Regions from separate parts of the Homo sapiens genome. Here region 1 is linked to region 2. The links come from fine-mapping of genetic effects on gene expression. A gene starts in region 2. The other region holds a variant in brackets. All regions are shown on one strand. Distances are between the middles of the regions.

The links. PIP is the estimated chance that this variant, and not a neighbour inherited with it, causes the effect.
Region 1: its variant is fine-mapped to the expression of OAZ2 in whole blood (TOPMed, PIP 0.98).

Annotation. Positions count from the first base shown.
Region 1 is chr15:64,288,111-64,300,264 of GRCh38, reverse strand. The region is part of intron 2 of CSNK1G1 (casein kinase 1 gamma 1); the gene reads left to right. Among named protein-coding and RNA genes, the nearest start is that of CSNK1G1, 62 kb to the left of the region's middle. The variant G/A (reference allele first, on the strand shown) is at 6,723.
Region 2 is chr15:64,698,194-64,710,347 of GRCh38, reverse strand. It overlaps OAZ2 (ornithine decarboxylase antizyme 2), which reads left to right and starts at 7,067. Exons shown (of 5, transcript NM_002537.3): 1 at 7,067-7,319. The coding sequence starts at 7,300. It overlaps LOC124903507 (a long non-coding RNA gene), which reads right to left and starts at 5,805. Exons shown (of 3, transcript XR_007064679.1): 1 at 5,716-5,805. RefSeq lists silencers at 6,932-7,251, 7,262-7,481 and enhancers at 9,110-9,947, 9,948-10,784.

The DNA of each region.
Region 1 (12,154 bases), 410 kb after region 2:
TTTGGTGTGTTTCAAGACAAGCCGTTTATAGTTTTACAAGAAATTTTTCTTAAGGAGAACCTGTTGTTAAGAAATAATTTGTGAAGGGGCACTATAGTCATTATCAATTATTTGTTATCCAAGGCTCATCTCTCTTTATGTGTGTGCGATGGGCTTTTAAGTTTTCTACCAGTTCTGAGATTTTCTGATGAACATAGAGTTGCATACAGATATCAGTAAAATGCAGACTCTGATTTAGGATGTCTGAGGTGGAGCCCCAAATTCTGCATATTTTTACAAATTCCAGGTGATGCAGATGCTGTTGGTCTTTTAAGAAGGACATAAGGCCTTGGTTTAATTCAGACTCTGCCCCTGAAAAGAAAAGAGTAAATCCTTACTCAGTAATACCCAGGCTTAGTCTGCAAGGATATACAGTACATCCTGTTTGGAGAAATTTTCCAAAAGATAATTTGTTTGCGTTTCTTCCTGGAGTTTCCAGCATTAGAATTAAGTTAGAACTCCAAGGAGAAGTTAGGCAATTTTATTTCCCAACTAAGGCAATGGATTTTCTATTTCAATTATGAATTTATGGGTGAGATGGAAAATAATGACAAAATTAATCTGTCTAAAAATGTGAGATTGGGAAGAAGGTACATTGGGTATTTATATATATATATAAAATTTTTTTTTTTTTGAGATGGAGTCTTACTCTGTCGCCCAGGCTGGAGTGCAGTGGCGCGATCTCGGCTCACTGCAAGCTCTGCCTCCCGGGTTCATGCCATTCTCCTGCCTCAACCTCCCAAGTAGCTGGGACTACAGGCATCCGCCACCACGCCCGGCTAATTTTGTTTTTGTATTTTTAGTAGAGACAGGGTTTCACCATGTTAGCCAGGATGGTCTTGATCCTCTGACTTCGTGATCCGCCCGCCTCGGCCTCCCAAAGTGCTGGGATTACAGGCGTGAGCCACCGCGCCCGGCCATTTATATACTTTTTAATGGCTCTCCCTTGATGAGTGGGATAGAGAAAATAAAAGGCCGTATAAATATATGAAGTTGGAAATTAGCCTGGAGAATGTGGAAAGGTCATCTTTTAGGCTAAAGTGTTTTCTTTTCCTTCATAGCTCTTGAGACTGTGGATTAATGTGAAGACTCATTGTAAGAAACTTTGGCCCTTTGGGGGGAGTGGTGGGAGGGTGGGAACATAATGTAATTATGTTTGTTACCTCTGCTACTTCTTTTTCTTTTTGAGATGGAGTGTTGCTCTGTCACCCAGGCTGGAGTGCAGTGGTGCGATCTCAGCTCACTGCAACCTCCTCTTCCCAGGTTCAAGTGATTCTTGTGCCTCATCCTCCAGAGTAGCTGGGACTTACAGGCATGTGCCACCATGCCCAGCTTATTTTTTTTTTTTTTGTATTTTTGTGGAGACGGGCTCTTGCCATATTGGCCAGGCTGGTCTTGACCTCCTGGCCTCAAGTGATCCACCCGCCTCGGCCTCCCAAAGTGCTGGGATTACAGGCTGAGCCACTACGCCTGACCACCTCTGCTACTTGTGATGGTCCTGCATAGAGAACATGGACAAAATCTTATCTCTGATCCCCCATAGAGAGCCTTGGAGAAACATCACTATACTAGCCAGAGACCATTTGAATTTAAGAATGATGAGAATGGATTTATTTTTACTGTTAGAAGGCTGACAACCTGGAAATTCAGGACTTAATTAGGATAATGAAAGGATCTTTATATTTAGAATTGTGTTCGGGTTACCAAAGCCAGCAGATGCTACTTACAATACGAGTAAGATGTGTAATTACTGCTTTACTTTCTAGCAATCACAGAGTTGCTTTAACGAATAGTTCTGTGAATATTTCTTTATGTCATAAATTGACTGTAACATCACAGTACTACTTGGATGGATTAAATAATTATGACATAAACATCCATAAAATGATTGCTAAGAGGCAGTTTCTAAAGCATCTAAATCTTTGAATTCTCAAAACATCAGACAATTGTTTCATTTCTGTGAAAGTGAAGAAAAACCTTGGTGAATTAAAAGTGGAAATCTGTTTAATCACTGAAGTCTAGATTTGTATTATAAGTTTACGTGGGAAGGGAAAAATTCATTCAGTTAAAAGCATACATTTATAGCCCATATATATTTTCAGAGTAGTATTGTGTTTTGTTTCCTCTTTGAATCTGAGATAATTTTGATGTTTCTCATTTGGACTTGCCTGTAGTCAGAAGAACTTGTCTTTCTTTTCATGTGCTTTTACTCTTCTCTGCTTATCAAGTTTTCATTAGCCCTGGGACCATACTGTTATGGCCTTGTATCTAGAAAAGATACTTTCAGAATTATCTGGCATCTTCCTGACAATAGAGTGGGCTGCATACCCCATTCCGTCATTTTCTTGTTCTAATATTAGCGAGGAGAAGATTGTAAACTACAAAATTCCAAAGTCAAGGCAGGTGCAGTCAGCCTACATCATGGCTACCACCTACAAAGCTCTGCTTCTCTAAACTAATTTCCTTTCCTAGACACACAGTCTGTCAAACAGCCAAGTGCATTTCTTCTTATTCTTTTTTTTTTTTTGAGAGACAGGGTCTTGCTCTGTTACCCGCCCTGGAGTGCAGTGGCATGATCATAGCTCACGCAGCCTCCAACTCCCAGGCTCAAGCGATCCTCCTACTTCAGCCTCCTTAATAGCTAGTGCATAAGAACACGCCCAGCTAATTTTTTTATTTTTAAATGTTTTGTAGAGATGATGTTTTGCAGGCTGGTCTTGAACTCCTGGCCTCAAGCGATTCTCCTGCCTTGGCCTTCCAAAGTGTTGGGATTACAGATGTGAGCCGCCACACCTGACCAACCGTGTGCATTTCTGCTTCAGAGCCTTTACACTTGCAATTCCTTCTGCTTGCAGAATTATTTCCCTAAAATTTTGCGTAGTGGGTTGTTTCTCATCCTTTAGGCCTCAGCTTATGTCTTACCTTCTCAGAGAAACATTCTATCACTTGTTCCTCATTCTCATTTAAAATAGCACGTTTCTTCTCTAGCACATCCTGTCTCGTCAAACTGCTTTATTTTATTCATTGCATTCATCACTATCTGAAATGACCATATGTATGTTTCCCTATTAATTGCCTCTCCTTACTTGAATATAAGCCCTTTAAAGGGCAGGGATTCTTTCTGTATTGTTTACTGTTATTTATGAGATGGAAGGATAAAAAGCTGATGAATAGGAAGAGGGGGGAAAATAAAGCATACTTTCTTTGGGCTCCAGGTTTATGTGGGGGTGGTGGTAGATAGTAGACCTATCGGTTCCAAACAGCAAAAAAAAAAAAAAAAAAAAAAAAGTAACGATAGTGCATTTTGGTTCTCTGCAAATGTTTCCACCCCATTATACAGTTTTCTTTTTTTTTTTTCTTTTAGATGGAGTTTTGCTCTTTTTGCCCAGGCTAGAGTGCAGTGGCACAATCTCGGCTCACTGCAACCTCTGCCTCCCGGGTTCAAGTGATTCTCCTGTCTCAGCCTCCCAAGTAGCTGGGATTACAGGCGTGTGCCTCCATGCCCGGCTAATTTTTTATTTTTAGTTGAGGCAGGGTTTCACCATGTTGGCCAGGCTGGTCTCGAACTCCTGACCTCAGGTGATCTGCCCACGTCAGCCTCCCAAAGTGCTAGGATTACAGGCGTGAGCCACTGCACCCAGCCTTCATCATACATTTAACAACTATTTCTTGAATATTTACTGATACTAGACTCTGGGAAGGATAGAAATAAGAAGATATAGTTTTTGTCTCTACAAATACCACAGTCTAGTGGTAGACAGAGAAAAACAAATTGCAATACAAAGTGATAATATAGCAGATTGGGGGCTGGGTGTAGTGGCTTATGCCTGTAATCCCAGCACTTTGGGAGGCCAAGGCAGGCAGATGACTTGAGCTTAGGATTTCAATACCAACATGAGCAACGTGGCAAAACCTCGTCTCTACAAAAAATACAAAAATTAGCTGGGTGTGGTGGTATGCACCTGTAGTCCTAGCTACTTGGGAGGCTGAGATGGGAGGATGGCTTGAGCCTGGGAGCCTGATGCTACCATGAGCCAAGATCACATCACTGCACTCCAGCCTGGGCGACAGAGTGAGACCGTGTCTCAAACAAACAAAAAACCAGATTGTATGGAAACTACATTGGCAGAGAAGGTTAATAAAGGCTTCAAAGAGGAGGTATGATTTGATGATAGGACAGGATTTCTGCTGGTAGACATAAGGAAGAAGAGCTTGTGCAGGATACACAATCACTAGATACTGTGCAAGTGCCCAGCATATCACAGCAGCATTTAGTTATACATGACTGGGTCATAGGATGTGAAGTGAAAGAAAAGTAATAGAATGAAGCTTTTAGGTAAGTTGGGACGAAATTGTGAAGTGTTTGCATATATTAAAGCATTTGGACTTTATCCTGTAGGCAATGGGGTCGAATCATCAGGAGTTTTACAACAGAGTGACATAATCTAGTTTATATTCCAGAAAGAGAATTCGGGTTGTATTGTAAGATTAGATCAAATAGGAAAGAAGTTGACATCTTGTAGATTTTGCTCTAATTGTAATACTTATCATGTTGTACTTTATTCTTCCATTTCTCTCTCCCAAGATAGGTGTAAGGGTATTACTTTGCTTTTTAGTCCTCATATTCTAATTCCTTTCACTGTGTGTGGTATGTAATGGGTACTCAAGAAAGGCTGAATTGTCCAGGTCAGAAGTAGCAGGGCCTTTGGTCTTAGCTCTGAAAATGGAAGTGAGATGGAGAGAGGACAGGGTAAATTAGAAATTTTAGACATAGACTTTAGGCAGGATTTAGTCACTAATTATTTGATGGGAAGAAGTCAAAGATGACTAAATGTGCCAGCTTGAAGAGACCTTATAAATGAGGAAGATGTAAACCCATTTATGCCGGAAGCTGCAAATTTTTTTGTGAAAAATCAGACCTTGGTGATGACCTCGAGCAGTGTATATAAATAACTCCCACCAGCCTAGCGTTCCAATAATGGAACACTAGGCATAAATGAGTTAATTGAGATAGTAAATATAGGACTAGGGAGAGTGGTTGGGAAGGCAGGTAAGATAGAGTTTGTGAATATTTGAGGACTGGGTGACACATATGCAGAAATGCATATCTGAGACTTAGAAAGTTAGGCTTGAGATAGGGATTAAGAAATCACACCAAACTAGAGATGGGGTTTCACCATGTTAGCCAGGATGGTCTTGATCTCCTGACCTTGTGATCTACCCACCTCGGCCTCCCAAAGTGCTGGGATTATAGGCATGAGCCACCGCGCCTGGCCACCCCCCGACCCTCTTTTTTTTTTTTTTTTTTTTTTTGAGACGAAGTTTCACTCTTGTTGTCCAGGCTGGAGTGCAATGGCACGATCTTGGCTCACTGCAACCTCCGCCTCCTGAGTTCAAGCGATTCTCCTGCCTCAGTCTCCCAAGTAGCTGGGATTACAGGCACCTGCCACAACGCCCAGCTAATTTTTTGTATTTTTTGTAGAGACGGGGTTTCACCATGTTGGCCAGGCTGGTCTTGAACTCCTGACCTCAGGTGATCTGCCTGCCTTGGCCTCCCAAAGTGCTGGGATTACAGGTATGAGCCACCACTCCTGGCCCTTCCCTATCTTTTTAAAATGAGCCATGTGTATTTTGTAATCAGCAAAAAGTAGTAATCAAAGCAAAACAATTTCATTAAAGCAAATTTTTTTAAAAAGAAAATACACTTATTGCTTAAAATTTTTTTTTAATTCTACTTTAGAGGTGTCTGTGGAGATAACCAGTAATGATGGTTTAATTTTCTACAGCTCAAAAATGTGTATTAGGACATATTTTAGAAATGCAATCAAATTGTGCTCTAAGCTTCCTCTTATGGCTGGGCGTGGTGCCTCATGCCTGTAATCCCAGCCCTTTGAGAGGCCGAGGTGGGCGGATCACCTGAGATCAGGAGTTTGAGACCAGCCTGGCCAACATGGTGAAACCCCATCTCTACTAAAAATACAAAGAATTAGCCGGGCTTGGTGACGGACGCCTGTAATCCCAGCTACTCGGAAGGCTGAGACAGGAGAACCAGTTGAACCTGGGAGATGGAGGTTGCAGTGAGCTGAGACTGCACCACTGCACTCCAGCCTGGGAGACAGAGTGAGACTCCGTCTCAAAAAAAGAAGCCTCTTTTTATTGCTTAATAGAGCATGAACATCTTGTTTCAACTTAAATATATCTCATCAATTTTAAATATTTCTATAGTATTCAATTTAGCCATTATCAATATACACAAAAATTATTTTGTATTTTAATACTATAATTAATACAGTACTCCTGCAGTCCCCAACTTTTTTGGCACCAGGGACCCATTTCATGGAAGACAATTTTTCCATGTACCAGGGGTGGAGGATGGTTTCAGGATGAAACTGTTCCACCCTAGATCATCAAGTATTAGATGTAGGCTAGATCCCTCACATGCACAGTAATAGGGTTTGCACTCCTGTGAGAATCTAATGCTGCCACTGATCTTTCAGGTGGCACTCAGGTGGTAATGCTTGCTTACCCACTGCTCACCTCCTGCCATGCAGCCTGGTTCCTAACAGGGCCACGGACTGGCACTGGTCTACTCGATCTCCTTGTATTTAAAGTTGGTTTAATTTCTTAGACTACATCCTGGAAGCGTACTTTTTGTGTCAAAGGATATGTACGTTTGCAATTTT[G/A]TTACACATTGTCAGTTTGCCCTCCAAAAAGATGTTTCACTTTGTGTGTATGTGTGTCCTTGTGCTTATTTCCTCCAGTGCTTCAGAAATCTTAAACAATATCAAGAATCTTTTCATCTATGACAGTCTGATAGGGGAAAATGGTATTACTTAAATGTGTATGTGTTCATAGGTGAAGTTAAACATACTTACACATATTTGCTTATTTTTTTAAAGAGTATTTCTATGTGGCCTTTGCTCATTTTCAATGGAAAGATTATTTCTGTGGAGTCTTTTGTGTACTGCCTCAATGAAAGGAGAATTATGAAGATTTAAGACAGAAGGGAAAATTGATGGATAGTGATTGTGTAGGTAGGAGGACATGATGGGATGAAAACAGATTTTATAGATTGATACTAACTGAAAATCATGGGGAATCTTGTGAGAACTTTCTCATTTTTAAAGTTTTGAGCCTTCTGCTGAATCAGGCCTGGAAAGAATCATGTAAACATTAAAATAAAATTATTTTCCTCTAGAGTTAAGAAAATATACATCCTCAATGTACAAATAATTGCTGATGTTTTTCTTAGTTGCAAGAATAAGTAGATAGATGATATTTATTTATTTATTTATTTATGAGATGGAGTCTCGCTCTATCACCAGGCTGGAGTGCAGTGGCGCGATATTGGCTCACTGCAACCTCTGCCTCCCAGGTTCAAGCAGTTCTCCTGCCTCAGCCTCCTGAGTAGCTGGGATTACAGGTGCCCGCCACCATGCCCGGCTAATTATTTTTTGTATTTTTTTAATAGAGACAGGTTTCACCAAGTTGGCCAGGATGGTCTCTATCTCCTAAGCTAGTGATCCAGCCACCTCGGCCTCCCAAAGTGCTAGGATTACAGGCATGGGCCACTGCACCTGGCTGGTGATATTTCTTTCACATCCACATAGGGGTGCACGTATGTTTATGGGAGACCTGTTAGACTAGAGAGACAGGCGTATGATTTTAATAATATTCATATTATCCTTTTGAAGTAGGATAGAGTGAGAGGATGTTTTTACTTGCATACAACAAAATGGAGGCACAACAAATTAACCTTTTTGATCTTTTCCATCTTTGGTGTCTGATGAAATATGCAAAAATGCATTAACACAGGATACTTCTGACAAAGGTAAATAAATTGGCTAAGGGTAGCAGCTTGTTCTGTGACACTCCTGCATGGCTTCTAAAGTAAGACACTTATTTCTGTGATTGATGTAGGATTTATATGACAGGCTCTGCATATTGTTCTTTCCTTGTCTGAATTACTGAACTGTCACTTGTGAACTTAAATTGGAACTTTTTTTTTTTTTTTTTGTGACGGAGTCTCGCTCTGTCGCCCAGGCTGGAGTGCAGTGGCTCGATCTTGGCTGACTGCAAGCTCCGCCTCCCAGGTTCACACCATTCTCCTGCCTAAGCCTCCCGACTAGCTGGGACTACAGGCGCCTGCCACCACGCCTGACTAATTTTTTTTTTTAATATGTGTATTTTTAGTAGAGACGAGGTTTCACCATGTTAGCCAGGATGGCCTCGATCTCCTGACCTTGTGATCCACCTGCCTCGGCCTCCCAAAGTGCTGGGATTACAGGCGTGAGCCACTGCGCCCTGCTTTTATTGGAACTTTTAACTTCTGCTACTAGCTTTTCTTTTTTTGGCAGTTGTAATTATTAACAATTTACAGATGAATACTATCTAAAGCAGTTCATTTCATATTATATCCCACAGTCTTAGATCCATTATTTTCCACTCCAAGTCAATGAGAAAAGAAAAGTGAGCAGGCAGAACTCTCCATGTTATCTGTTTTATACATTTTATACATTTGAGTTTTCAATAAGATTTTGTTTGAAAGGTATGATTCTGCTGCTTTAAACATTTTTGAAAATCATCTGAGAGAATGCAGGCTTAAGATGAAACATAATTTTATTTTATTTTATTTTTGAGATGGAGTTTCACTCTTGTTGCCCAGGCTGGAGTGCAATGGCATGATCTTAGCTCACCGCAACCTCCACCTCCTGGATTCAAGCAATTCTCCTGCCTCAGGCTTCTGAGTAGCTGGGATTACAGGTGCCCACCACCACACCCAGCTAATTTTTTGTATTTTTAGTAAAGATGGGGTTTCACCATGTTGGCCAGGCTGGTCTCAAACTCCTGACTTCAAGTGATCTGCCCGCTTCAGCCTCCCAAAGTGCTGGGATTACAGGCGTGAGCCACTGCACCCAGACCAAAATGTAACATAATTTAAAGGTATTTCTTCTCTAGTTCAAAATGAAGCCATTTTAAAATCAAATTTTTGCTTTTAAGTTAATAGTTTCTTAGAAAATCATGGTATTTTAAACAAATGAAAGTGTATCAGCCAAACACCTAATTAACCAGAAACATTGATATATATTTGTAACCTTGTTAAAGTTTTCTTATAAATTTACAAATTTTTAGGTTCTGTGGATGGAACAAACTAAAACAAGTTTTAGAAGTCATGTCATTCTTCTGCTTAAGTGATTAAAAATAGGAGTCTTGGCTGGGCATGGTGGCTCACGCCTGTAATCTCAGCACTTTGGGAGGCCAAAGCAGACAGATCATCTGAGGTCAGGAGTTGGAGACCAGCCTGGCCAACGTGGTGAAACCCCGTCTCTACTGAAAATACAAAAATTAGCCAGGCATGGTTGTGGGCGCCTGTAATCCCAGCTACTCGGGAGGCTGAGGTGAGCTGAGATCGTGCCATTGCACTCTAGTCTGGGTGACAAGAACGAGACTCTGTCTCAAAAAAAATAAATTAATTGAATTAAATTAAATTAAATTATAACTTTAGATAAAATGCATTCTAATTTTTTTGTTGTTATGTGGATATATTCCCTAATGGTGAAGTCTGGGTTTTTTTGTGTAACTATCACCTGAATAATATGCATTGTATCCATTAAATAATTTCTCATTTCTCACCTCTTTCCCACCCTTTTAAGTCTTCAGTGTCTATTATTCCACACTCTGTGTCCATGTGTACACATTATTTAGCTCCCACTTATAAGTGAAAGCATGCATTTTTTGATTTTCTGTTTCTGAGTTGTTTCACTTAAGTTAATGGCCTGCAGTTCCATCCATGTTGCTGCAAAAAACGTGAAATTTTATTATTTTTTTAAGGGCGGAATAGTAGTTCATTGCCTGTCTGCCTGTGTGTGTGTGTGTGTGTAAAATGTGTGTGTGTATGTGTATGTGTATATATATATATAAAATCATCCATGAGGGACACTTGTTTCCGTATTTTTGGCGATAAACATAACATATGCAGGTGTCTTTTTGATGTAATGATTTCTTTTCCTTTGGGTAGGTACCCATTAGTGAGATTGCAGGATCAAATGGTGGTTTTAGTTTTTTGGGAAACTTCCATACTGTTTTTCATAAAGGGTGCACTCATTTACATTCCCGCCAACAGTGTATAAGTGTTCTCTCTTCTCTGCACCCATGCCAACATCTTTTATTTTTTGACTTTTTAATAATAGCCATTCTTAGGAGTGTAAAAGGCTTATTGGAAAAACCAACAAAACAAAAAATAATAATAATAGCCATTCTGACTGGTATAAAATTATATCTTATTGTGGTTTTAATTTGCATCTCTCTGCTGATTAGTTCTTTTGAGCGTTTTTTCATATGCTTCTTGGTCATTTGTATGTCATTCAAATGTCATTCAAATGAAGTCATTTGTATGTCTTCATTTGAAAAATGTTCATGTCCTTTGCTCACTTTTAGATGAGGTTATACGGTTTTTTGTTATTGTTTGTTTAAGTTCCTTGTAAATTCTTACAATTAGTATTGTAAATACTATAATATCCTTGTAATTGGATATTAGTTTCCTGTTAGATGCAGTTTGCAAATATTTTCTCCCATTCAGCAGGTTGTCTGTTCACTCTCTTATTTCTTTTGCTGTGCAGATGCTTTTTAGTTTAATTAAGTCCCATTTGTCTATTTTGTTTTTGTTGTGCATTTTAATTTTCTTGGAAGAATATCAAATGTATATGAGATTCTTGTTTGTAGTAGTATCGTAGTTTAAATTTCTTTTGGAATTACACCCTAGTTTAACTTAAGCACAATTTGTTAAGGTTAAGCAGTTTTAACAGATCTTGGAGAAGAATTATTTCTGTCAATAGCATAATCCATCAAAATAAAGTAGAAATGAAGAGTTCTAACCACATTAGGTGACACACAGTCTGCATTGCATTAATATGGTAATTTTAGAAGTGTCACAGATACAATACTTGCAAGATTATGCATTGACATCTTGAATGGTTAACCAGAAGAATGTAATGGTAAAATTTCCAGGCTTGCCAAACAATTCCGGAATTTTTTTTTTTTTTTTTTGATACAGAGTCTCACTTGTTCGCCCAGGCTGGAGTGCAGTGTTGCAATCTCGGCTCGCTGCAGCCTTCATCTCCTGGGTTCAAGTGATTCTCGTGCCTTGCCTCAGCCTCTGGAGTGGCTGGGGTTACAGGCGTGCACCACCACGGCCGGCTAATTTTTGTATTTTTAGTGGAGATGGGGTTTCGCCATGTTGGTCAGGCTGGTCTCAAACTCCTGAGATCAGGTGATCTGCCCACCTTGGCTTCCCAAAGTCCTGGGATTACAGGCATGAGCCACCATGTCTGGCCACAATTTTTGAGGAGGACTATGAAAGTAGGATGGTTATGGGCAACAGAAGTTTATAGAAAGATGTGTTTATGAGGGTGATTCAGAAGCAGTATTTACATGATGTCATCATGCATCCTAAGGAAAAAACTGTCTGAACTTATGGCCTACTTTTCCAGAAGGCGGCAAAGCTTTTGTCAAAGAAAGTGGAGCTTACTGCCAGCTGTTGTGGGCTTTCAAAGAGCAGGTGATGCTGGATTGATTCAATTTTTTTTTTCTATGTTGGGGTTACTAGGACAAGAGGAAATATATATATATACACATGCACACAAACACACACACACATACACACATATATATATATAACTTTATAAAGTATCATGTAATATTTTTTATAATTTATCTTTAATTCCAATAACTAGGTTACATAGATTCTAAAGTTCTGAATCCTATAGGCAAGTGGTTCAATTATTTTATCCATGTCGTCTAGATACCTCCTTATTTCTAAATATTATTTCTTAATTTTTTCAATATTAGATGTTGTTATTGATTGTCTCACAGATGCCATCCCTAATGACGTACATACCTTGCCCATATTCTCCCAATATACTTATGTCATATTTTTTGGTTCAATAATTTTTTTACATTTACAGCTTTATGGCTGTGGAAGTATTGTTTACAACCAATCTATGAGAGCACTGTTACTGTATTTCCTTTTTAGTATGACTCCATCATTCCTTCCCTCAGAATTAAAAATTGCTGATACTTGATTTTTAAAAAAAATTCTTAGTTATCAATATACCTT
Region 2 (12,154 bases):
GGGAGGCGGAGGTTGCAGTGAGCAGAGATCACACCACTGCACTCCAGCCTGGGCAACAGAGCAAGACTGTCTCAAAAAAAAAAAAAAAAGAAAAGAAAAAAAGAAGCTAGAAAAGAAGGGATCTGGGAGCTGAGATTGCACAATTATACTCCATCCTCAGCGACAGAGTGCAAAAAAAAAAAAAGACCGGGCACGGTGGCTCACGCCTGTAATCCCAGCACTCTGGGAGGCCGAGGCAGGTGGATCACAAGGTCAAGAGATCAAGACCATCCTGGCTAACACGGTGAAACCCCGTCTCTACTAAAAATACAAAAAATTAGCTGGGCATGGTGGCGGGCGCCTGTAGTCCTAGCTACACGGGAGGCTGAGGCAGGAGAATGGCATGAACCCAGGAGGCAGAGCTTGCAGTGAGCCGAGATCGCGCCACTGCACTCCAGCCTGGGTGACAGAGTGAGACTCCATCTCAAAAAAAAAAATAAAAAAAAAATAAAAAGAAAAGAAGAGATGTGAGTCAAAATTAGGACTACTATTATATTATTAAAAAGATAAAAGATGGTCAGGCATGGTGGCTCATGCCTGTTATCTCAGCACTTTGGGAGGCTGAGGTGGGTGGATCACTTGAGGTCAGGAGTTCAAGACCAGCCTGGCCAACATGGAGAAACCCTGTCTCTACTAAAAATACAAAAACTAGATGGGTGTGGTGGTGGGTGCCTGTAATCCCAGCTACTTGGGAGGCTGAAGCAGGAGAATCACTTGAGCCCAGGAGGTGGAGCTTGCAGTGAGCTGCAATCACGTCACTGCACTCCAGCCTGGACAACAGAGTGAAACTCCATCTCAAAGAAAAAACAAGACAAAAGACAAGTGTTGGTCTGGATGCAGAGAAAAGGGAACCCTTGCACCCTGTTGGTGGGAATGTGAATTAGTATAGCCTTTATGGAAAACAGTATGGCGGTTCCTCAAAACATTAAGAATAGTCTGGGCATGGAGGCTCATGCCTATAATCCCAGCACTTTGGGAGGCCAAGGCAGGCAAATCACAAGGTCAGGAGTTTGAGACCAGCTTGGCCAACATGGTGAAACCCTGTCTCTACTAAAAATACAAAAAATTAGCTGGGCGTGGTGGCGTGTGCCTGTAATCTCAGCTACTCCGGAGGCTGAGATAGGAGAATCGCTTGAACCTGGGAGGCGGAGGTTGCAGTGAGCTGAGATCGCTCCGCTGCACTCCAGCCTGGGTGAGAGAGTGAGACTCCATCTCAAAATAAAAAATAAAAAACATTAAGAATAGAACTACTTTATGATCCAGGAATCCCACTACTGGGTATATATCCAAAGGACCTGAAATTAGCATGTCAAAGAGATTTGTATTCCCATGTTCATTGCAGCATTATTCACAACAGCCAACACATGGAAACAACCACAGTGCCCAACAACACACGAATGAATAAAGAAAAATGTACATATAGACAACGGGGTACTATTCAGCCTTAAAAAAAGAAGGAAACTGTATCATTTGCGACAACATGGATGAACCTGGGAGATGTTATGTTATGTGAAATAAACCAGGCACAAAACAAGAAATACTGCATGATTTCACTTACATGTAGAGTGTGAAAAAAATCAAGCTTAGACCAAGAATGGTGGCTCAGACCTGTAATCCCATTCATTGCTTTGGGAGGCTGAGACAGGAGGATCCCTTGAGACCAGGAGTTTGAGACCAGCCTGGGCAACACAGGGAAACCCTGTCTCTGGAGAAAAGAGTAAAAAACAATTAGCTAGGCATGGTGGCATGTGCCTGTGGTCCTAGCTACTCGGTAGGCTGAGGCAGGAGGATCCTTTCAGGCCAGGAATTTGAGGCTCCAGTGAGCTATGCTGGTTCCACTGCACTCCAGCCTAGGCAAAAGAATGAGACCCTGTGTCAAATAAACAAAACAAAAAGTCAAACTCATAGAAATAGAGAGTAAAATGATGGTCACCAGAGGCCGGGGGCAGGTAGAGGAATTGGAAAAGTGTTAGTCAAAGGACACAAATTTTCAGTTAGACAAGAGGAGTAAGTTCAAGAGATCTATGTTACATCATGATGGCTAGAGTTAACAACATAGTGTATATTTGCAAAAAAATGATAAGGATGTAAGATAATAAATATGTTAAAAAGCTTGATTTGGCCGGGTGCAGTGGCTCATGCCTGTAATCCCAGCACTTTGGGAGACTGAGGTGTGCGGATCACTTGAGGTCAGGAGTTCGAGACCAGCCTGGCCAACATGGCAAAACCCCGTCTCTACTAAAAATACAAAAATTAGCCAGGCTTGGTGGCGCAAGCCTGTAATCCCAGCTATTCAGGAGGCTAAGGCAGGAGAATCGCTTGAACCTGGGAGGTGGAAGTTGCAGTGAGCCAAGATCGTGCCACTGCACTCTGGCCTGGGTGACAGAGCGAGACTCCGTCTCAAAAAAAAAAAAAAAAAAAAAAAAATTTAATCATTGATTAACTCTTCTACAATGTATACATATATGAAAACGTGATGTACACCATAAATGTATACAATCTTTGTTAAAATTTTAAAAATATGCATAAAGAAATAATGATTTTTGTGGGAACTATTTTAACATAATTTCACACTTATGGTTCTCGACTACTTTTCTAATAAACTACTATCTCTCTTTGCCAAGGGAAACAGAAAAAAACAGTATCATTAGCTGGCAGTGGACTCAAATAGGAGAGTTTCAGTTATTCCAAATTTCTGTGGCTTACCATATAATTCAGTCCTATGTAAAAATCTGCAATTGGTAACAGTGACTACTGAGTTTGGACCCAAGTATTTGCACTAAAGCTTTGACACATTAGATAGGTTCCTTTCGTTTTCTTTTTTCTTTTTTTCTGAGACGGAGTCTCACTCTGTTGCCCAGGTTGGAGTGCAGTGGTGTGATCTCAGCTCACTGCAAGTTCCGCCTCCCAGGTTCACGCCATTCTCCTGCCTCAGCCTCCCGAGTAGCTGGGACTACAGGTGCCCTCCACCACGCCCGGCTAATTTTTTGTATTTTTAGTAGAGACGGGGTTTCACCATGTTAGCCAGGATGGCCTCGATCTCCTGACCTCATGATCCGCCCGCCTCGGCCTCCCAAAGTGCTGGGATTACAGGCGTGAGCCACAACGCCCGGCCTCTTTTGTTTTTTAAGTTGAGGCAGGGTCTTAGTCTGTCACCCAGGCTGGAATGCAGTGGTGCAGTCACAGCTCACTGCAGCCTTGACCTCCCAGGCTCAAGCGATCCTCCTACTGCAGCCTCCCGAGTAGTTGGAACCACAGGTGTGTGTCCCCACGCTGGCTTTTTTTTAAAATTTTTATAGGGTCTCCTCATTACCCACAGCTAATCTTAAACTCCTGGGCTCAAGTGATCCTCCCACTTCGGCCTCTCAAAGTGTTGAGATTATAGGAATGAGTTGCCACGCTCAGTCATAGACAGGTTACTTTCTCATCTCTCTTAACAAGTTTCTTCCTCTTAAAAAAAACAAACAAAAAACTTAGGGCTAATGAATAGTGAGGAATTAGTGAGGTCAAGCGTTAAGCTCCTGATACAGGTCAAAGACTTGTTGAAAGGTTTAATTAAGGCAAAGGTTATGGTTGGAGAGTCAATATTTTGGACGTGAAATGATTTTTGGTGAAAACAAAGTTGAGGGTGTGTTAGCAGCTACAGTGGAGTGCTGAAAATCTTACCGGAGATGAGAAAGTCGAGGAAGTGAGAGGAGCGTGGCTGAGAGGCCATCATGTGGACCTTGAGCTCACCAAATATGACAAAATTTGGGGCGGAGAGGCAGCAAGCCATGAGCCAAATAAGGGGCATCAACCAGGAGGCTGGCTAATGACATTAACCAAGATAGTATATCTAGAGGGTGAAGCCCCAATGGAACAGGGATTTTGTGGGAGGGAGGGGAAGATAAACACTGGTCTAGAAATGGCATTGGGATGGAGAGGAATACACTTACCCACTTCTGACACTGAGGCACGTGAGAATGAGAAACAGAATTCACCTAATAGAGCTGCTGGAGAAGCAGCGGTTAGTGGATAGCCAAGTTTCAGATAAAGCAAGGATGCTGAGAAAAGGCTGAGGATGTGGAAGAGTTTGCTGATCACACGTTGCAGAAGGCACAGTGGGAGGGTATGGTTAGGAGCAGGAAGCAGAGTCTGATAGATTGCCAGTGTGAGGGCAATGGATGAGAAGGGACTTGAACCTGTGGTGGTGACTGGGGTAGACAGGGATAGAGGGGTGATGGGATATAGTGCTGTTGTAGAAGTTTCTGTGATGATAGACATGTTCCATATGTATACTGTGTAATACTGTGGCTGCTAGCCACATATGGCTATTAAGCATATGAAATGTGGCTAGTGGGCCGGGCGCGGTGGCTCATGCCTGTAATTCCCAGCACTTTGGGAGGCCGAGGCAGGTGGATCACTTGAGGTCAGGAGTTCGAGACTGGCCTGGCCAACATGGTGAAACCCCGTCTCTACTTAAACTATAAAAATTAGCCGGGTGTGGTGGTGGGCGCCTGTAATCCCAGCTACTCGGGAGGCTGAGACAGAAGAATTGCTTGAACCTGGGAGGCAGAGGTTGCAGTGAGCTGAGATCATCCCACTGCACTCCAGCTTAGGTGACAGAATGAGACTCGGTTTCAAACAAAAGAAAAAGAAATGTGGCTAGTGGGACTGAGGAATTGAACTTTTAACTTTATTTCATGTTAATTAATTTAGATTTGAAGACCTCAGTTTTTGTGAATTTTTCACTTGCTGACCAGGTGGCTATCAGGGTGGCCACTCCTTTAAACAGAAAGCTGTCCAGAGAGCTTCTGACTCTTCCACCATGCAGATCCAGAGAAAGCACAGGATCAGGCAACTTGGGATCCAAATTCTAACTATACCACTTAATCGCTTTGAATTAAAGCTAGCATGTTAACATGTCTGGTATAGACAGACCCTCAATAAATATTGGATGACAGAATAAATCTCTCTGAGGTTTAATTCTCTTCATCCTTAAAACGAGGGTGGAGAGCTGTTCTAAAATTTAGTACTTTACCCATGATGCTCAATAAATGGTCGCTATTATTGACATAGTGAGTTCTCAATATTTGTTGATTCATGGGTCAAAAACTGTCCTTCAGGTTAAAGGGTTACTTGGCCAGGAATGGGCTGGCAGAAGTGAGACATTCCAGCTCCCTCTGAGGGTCCAGGAGGATTGCCCAGGTCTCTGGGACTATGCGATGGGGTAGATCAGGGCTGGGTTTAAATGTCCAATTTTGCTAAGTACTAATGTAAGAACATACCTGACTTGAACCTGGAGGAGTAGGTAGGGATAGCTGAGGGACAAAGTGGAGGATCTTAAAGTGAACCAGAGTATGAGACCAGCCTTGCCTGAATATCTAGTGATAATCCGGGCAGTTTCGGTATCATTTACCACTTTAATTTGTGTTGAAAAAGCCTTAGCTTGGTAGCTCCAGCCTTCCTTCTGTGCCTCCATCCCCATCATCCAAAACCCAAAAGCATGCTGTTTGTGAAGGAGAGTAACCATATCCTGAGATGACTCCAATGTGAGATGTTTGTGAACTGAAAGTCATAGTGACCGCCGATCTGGAGTGTCACCCTTTCTCTGAGTTATCACTCTTTCTGCAAAGCTGTCCCTAATTCCCTAAATTACTTTCTCTGTGGCATTCCTCAGATTGAGCACTTACTTACCTGGTATTGTGATGACCTGTGTCTCTCCCCTTGACCGGATTGTGACATCCAAGGCAGGAACCTTGCCTGGTTGATTATGGCGTATTCTTGGACTCTAGCACATGCCTGGAGCATACAGTAAGTAGCTATTCAATAATTATTTGTTGGCCGGGTGCGGTGGCTCATGCCTGTAATCCCAGTACTTTTGGAGGCCGAGGCAGGTGGATCACCTGAAGTCAGGAGTTCAAGACCAGCTTGGGCAACATGGTGAAACCTCGTCTCTACTAAAAATACAAAAATTAGCCGGGCATGGTGGTACATGTCTGTAATCCCAGCTACTCAGGAGGCTGAGGCAGGAGAATCGCTTGAACCCGGGAGGTGGAGGTTGCAGTGAGCTGAGATTGTGCCACTGCACTCCAGCCTGGGCCACAGAGAGAGACTCCATCTCAAAAATAAGTAAATAAATAAAATAATTATTTGTTGAATAACTGAATGGATGTAATCTGAGGTGACAGAGTGACCCACTGTGATCTGAGATAATGTGACCTCTCTTGATTGCAATCTGGGTTGACTGTGAACAGAGTCGGGGCTTTTGATGATTGTGTTGAAGTGTCTGTGATTGTAACCTACAAGGACTGTGATCTGAGGGGTCTGCGCACCGGTGACTGTGGCCTTCAGGCACTAATCTGTCATAAGGACCAGTAGGGATAATGAATGGAGGTGACTGAACTAGTAACCTTGCATGATCGATTGAAGTAACTTGCACTGATTGTGATCTGAAGTGACCGTGAACAAGTTAGTGACGACGCTTTCCACGACTGTCTTGTTGTGACTGTGCTCATGATCTACAGAGTTCTGGCTTCAGATGACCTAAGCCAGTGCTTGGAGCAGCCTTGACGATTGACATGAGATGTGTGCGAGATGCTGAGATTGTTGATCTACCCTGACAGCTGAGGTTATTGATCTGCATTATGAGCTGAGATAACAGATCTGTGGGCCTGGACTCAGACTAGGAATGGTGCTAATATGTGTGTAGTTCTCTTAAGATTTCTGATTTTGTTTTAATATCCTCCCAAATGGCACAGCCCTGTTCGGCCCCACGCCAACAAGGAATAGGGATGAGGACCAGGTTGAGTCAATCCTCACAGAAAACTACCGGAAACACAACGCATCTTCTGGGCCGCGCTGCCGCAGCTGCGGGCAGACCCACCGCCTTGGTCATGGCCTCCTGCACAGCCTGCCCTTCGTTCGGACCCCCTAGCCCTACCCCCACGATCGGTCCGTGGTGCGCCTGCGCGGAGGCGGGGCGGTGCTTTGCCCTTTGTTGTGGGCCCCAGTTTCCCAGGACACCGCGCGGCGCTGGGGTGGGGCTATGCAGATGAGGCACTCGGGGGCGGGGCGGCGGCGGCGGCGGCGGCGGTGGCGGCCGGGGAGGGTCAGTTGGAGGCAGGCGCTCGCTGAGGCAAAAGGAGGCGCTCGGCCCGCGGCCTGACAGGGACTTAGCCCGCAGAGATCGACCCCGCGCGCGTGACCCCACACCCACCCACTCATCCATCTATCCACTCCCTGCGCCGCCTCCTCCCACCCTGAGCAGAGCCGCCGAGGATGATAAACACCCAGGACAGGTAACGGCCCGGCCCAGGCTCCCCGCCCCCATCCTCCCTCATCTGCTCCAGAGGGCCTCTCACGTACCCCTAGCCGGCCCCCGCCCCCCGCAGCGGGGCCATCCGCCCCCAGCCAGGTCCGTTCACCACTTCAGCCACCCTAGTCCGGTCCTCAGCCCTGCAACTGGGCCTTCTTCTGTCCTTTAGCCCCCTCTTCAGCCGGGCCCATCCCCCTCATCCGGGCCTTCTCCTCCCCTAAAGCCCCCAAAAGCCGGAACCCAACCTTCCAAGCAAGTCCCCTTTTTTCTTTCAGCCCCACCGAATTGTGCCCCATTCCCCAAACTGGGCTTTCCCCGGCATCCAGATTCCCCAAATTGTTTCCTGTCTTCCTCAAATCTTTCTTACTCCCCTTATAAGTCACTTCACCCTTCCCTTTGAATTCCCTCCCTGATGAAAACTGCACCCCCCACCCAGACTCTTCTCATATCACTGCCCCCCGCAAAGTCAACCTCCATCCTTCAGTTCTCAGTTTACCCCCACTCATCACCCTCCCCCCATTCTCTTCAGGCCTAGCAGTCCTTACACAGATGTCCAGCCTCTTCCTCCTGGTCCCATACTTCAGCTTCATCTTTCCCCCACCTTCCCCTCTCCACACCCCTCTCCCAGTTAGGCCCCATTTTCCCAGTCTCCCAGCGCCATTCCTTTTATTTATCAAACACCAGGTTTGATTCTTGTGCTCCATCCTGTTGCCCCAATGGTATACCCCCAACACTCTTGGAAACATTCTTACCCTCTAAACATCTTTTCTCAGCTGGAACTCATCCTTCTCCTTCCCCTCTTAACTGAATCCCGTCTTTGGATCATTAGATCACAGGACCCAGCCATCTCGCTTCCAGTGAACCTTCCCCCTGTACCTCCAGTGCCTTCAAACCAAGCTCTATATTCTGGACACTAGATCTTTGCAATTTCCTCCCTCAAAACCCGACCCTAGTCTTCCCCCATTAATTAGAGAAAGGCTGCACATCTTTCTCAGACCGAGCACCCTGGTTTTCCAAACTTGCATGGTATATCCTTCCCCCTGCAGATAGTTCCTCAATTTTCCTTTCTCTACATGCCTCTCTTTCTCCAAGACAACCCTTCTCACCTATCTCTCCCTCAAATTTTAATATATCCCATATTTCTGCCTCTGTTCTCTGAAACTGTTCCACAATTTCCTAATTCCCCGGAATTTTTAATCCTAGTTGCTCCTTATACATCAGAATGGCTTTCATTTACAATTTGGACCTAATTCTCTTCCTCATTTTTTCCCCAAACTTGTTGCTGTCCTGTCCAAACCGTGTCTGAAGCTCATTAGTTCCCCACACCAGACCTTTTGTCCCCAGATTTGGCCTTATGGCCTCTGCCTCTCACTTGGGCCTCATTATTTTGCAAGCAGATCCATTCCCTGTAAATCTTCCTTAAATTGGGCCATGTTCTATTCAGAATTAGACTAGTTCCTCTCAAATGCATTGCCTTCTTTATTGCTTTTCTTTGCATAGAGCCCTCTAACTGCCACTCAGGATTCCTCTCAAACTTGGGCACTCTTCTTACTGAAATAGTCTCTCAACTTTCCTTTCCCACTTGTTAACAGCACCAGCCTTAAATATTCCAACTGGGTTTTCAGCTTTTCTTGTATTTCAGTGTTTCTTACCCTGGCTTCACATTTGAGAAATCAGTCACTTGGGCCTTACCTTCAAAGATTGGTCTCATTGGCCTAGAGTGTCCTGATTATTAGCATATAGTTTTAAAGCTCCCCAGGTAATTCTTTATAATGCAAAGCTGGGGTTAAAAACCACAGCTTCCTTCCTGCAGCTTTTCCCATCCTATTCCTGTAGTGGGTGTCAGCCCTTTTCTACTGACAAAGGCCTAATTTTCTTCGAGGAATATTTTTTTTTTTTTTTTTTTTTGAGACAGGGTCTCACTCTGTGGCGCAGGCTGGAGTGCAGTGGTGCGATCTGGGCTCACTGCAACCTCTGCCTCCTGGGCTCAATTTCTTCAGGGATTTCTTAGTCTTTCTCTCTCAGGTGCTGTCCAGAAGTGCCCAAGATACAATACCTGCAACAGCTTCTGAAGTTCCTGTCTGTACTCAGTTCTCAGCCATTGGCCATTTTCTTCCCCCAAGTCTCAGACTCTTAACTGGTGCCCTCCCCCTCATTTCTTCTTTGCATGCAGGAAGAAAATTCACTCGCCGTTTGATAATTTGTTATGGTCTTATTTGACCTGTTATCCCTGCCTCCCATGTTCTCTTTACCCTACAACCCATCAGCTGTTAGAGTTTCCTTTTCCAAGACTCTCCATGTCCATCCCCTCTGCATTCCCCCCTTTCACTCCATCTTCTGTAACCCAGCCCCTCGGGAGCTGAGGAGGTGGAGGCGGATATAGACACGGAGAGTGCTGGATGCAAAGGTGTTACTTGTGGCAAAGGCGCCGTGTGTGCTGAGGATAGATGGCAGGTATGAGAGAGGGCAGGATGAAGCACAGGGGTGGAGGGGAGCAGAGAGACCTACAACAAAACCCACTCAAGGGGTATGTGAGATAGACTTTTTTTTCTGTTCTTTTTGTGTGTCTGTAGTGGGGGTTGGAAAGTGGGGTGGTCTCAGCAGTCATTCTCTGGAGTCCTCTGGACTGAGCTGGTCGAAATGCCGAGTCTTTTGTAGGCTGAGCCCTGAGAGTTGAGCAACTTGGAACCAACATGTAAGAGTCTTCACCAACTGTGAGGTTGAAAGACCTGAGTTCTGGCTGAGCCAGTGTGCTTACATGTGAAAAGAAGAGGGGGTTGGGTTAACTTGACTCGAAAATTCTTTCCAGCTTCCTAAGTGGCAAAACAGGCTTGCTTGTCTCCAGGGCCCTTGCTTAGCGTGTTGGTAATTTGAGGGGCCTGGCTGTATGAGAGGCAGGTGGAGAGAGGAGCCAACTGGCCTGCCAGGGCCTGGGTAGGAGCTAGGCCTTGGATCAGGCTCCTCCACTTGGCCTGGGGGTGGGGTGTTGTGTGCAGGGTGTCTGGTTTCTTTGAGTGATGGCAATCCCATTTCCATAGCGTGTTTCCTAGATTCCTTGGGCCTGCCCCTAACTTTCTAAAAGGAATCCTGGTAGAGTCCTAACTAGGGATTCTGATAAGAGCCGGATGTTCTTCCCAGTCAGTGTTCTCGAGTGTTTCATATCCATAGAGTGGGGAGCTGGCTGGGAATTTAGCTCCCATTGGGTGGGGGATGGGATTTTCAGCTTCCCTGGCTCCAGTGAAAAACTCAGGAGGTGGAGGCTTGGTTTCCTGGAAGAAATAGTTGCAGAGGAGCTGGCACTATGTTTTGAAAACAAGGCTCTTCCTTTCCAGTGTTATTCTGATTGGTACTTCCAAAATGTCAGAATTCCTGATGGTGGGGGAGGGAAGAAGATACAAGTACGAGCACCTTTATTATCCTTTTTGAACATGAGGTTTAAATCCAAGGAAATCAAGCTTCCTGGTCTTTTTCTCCCTGGATTTGTGGGGGCAGGGAGACAGTATCTGTCCAGGGCTTGCTTTGTACCTGTGACAGTACAGTATGTAGAGAAGCACTAGCCCTGGCTTGATAGTGATATTATTATCAATCTGTGCTGATGGGCTTTGAGGAGAAACATTTGGTTCTGCAGGTGGTTTTTTGGGGGAAGGGGGCAGGGCATAAGAACATATCAGAACTATCAGCATCTTCACTGAGTGGTTTCCTGGGTAATGGAATTTCTGTCTCTTCCTAAAGGGTCTGGTTTCAGTTATTCCTTATTTATTGACAATATGGCTTGTTGGGCATGGGGTGGTAGGGAGAGCCAGTTTTCCAATGATGTGCCTTCAAGGTCACTCTATGGTAGGAGGGTTGGGGGAGAGGAGAGAGGGGAGAGAGAGAGGAGAGAGTCAAAGAGGAGAGAGAGAGAGACAGACACAGACTCTCCTAGTATAGTCAGGAATCCCCCAAAATCAGAGCTATGCTTCAGAAAGCAGTGTGGGCTAATAATAGCAATTCCTCACTCTGCCAAGAAATCCAAATTTAGCCTCAGAGCTGCTCAAAAATATAAAAAAGGGGACTGAGGAGTGGGATAGAGGGATGTTACAAATGTGCATTTCTAGAAAAACAAAATGAGTAATTCATCCCTTTTTGAAAGAGTATGCAGTGTTGATTCAAGTTGGTGCCATGATTTAGAAGGTTATGAAGCCAAAGTTACAGACCAGGCCAGGCATGGTGGCTCACACCTGTAATCCCAGCACTTTGGGAGGCTGAGACGATTGCTTGAGCCCAGGAGTTCAAGACCAGCCTGGGCAACATAGTGAGATGCCCCATCTCTTAAAAAAAAAAAAAAAAGTTATAGACAAGAAAGGGACAAGTAGGCAGGCAAGAATTTTGTCACTTAAAGTGAACAAAACAGGTAGTGTCCGGTTAGCAGCAGTAGTGTAAAATGCTTTGTATAAGATAAACCTTAAGAAAATTTCTTAGTCCTTTGATACTATATAAACAATGATGTAATTCTGTCCTGGGAAGAGGCTGGCACTGTGTGATGACCTTACTCTGCAAACTAGATTGAGGTACTTAATATGTAAAAGTAAAGTCTTATATTAAAGCTTGATTACCTAGCTATCCACTCACCTCTGGTAGCATATGTGATTGTGCGTTCCTTTGGCATATGTACCAATATCAGCTGTGTGATAAGCAAACCCCAAAGGCACAGATATTCTAGCTATCACTATAACTGTGTTTCTTGTGGAGAATCAACCAAAACCCAATTTTGCTTTCAGCCTGTGATTCAGAGTGGTGATGTCATTTTCTTTATAATTGTGCTTAGCAAGAAGAGTC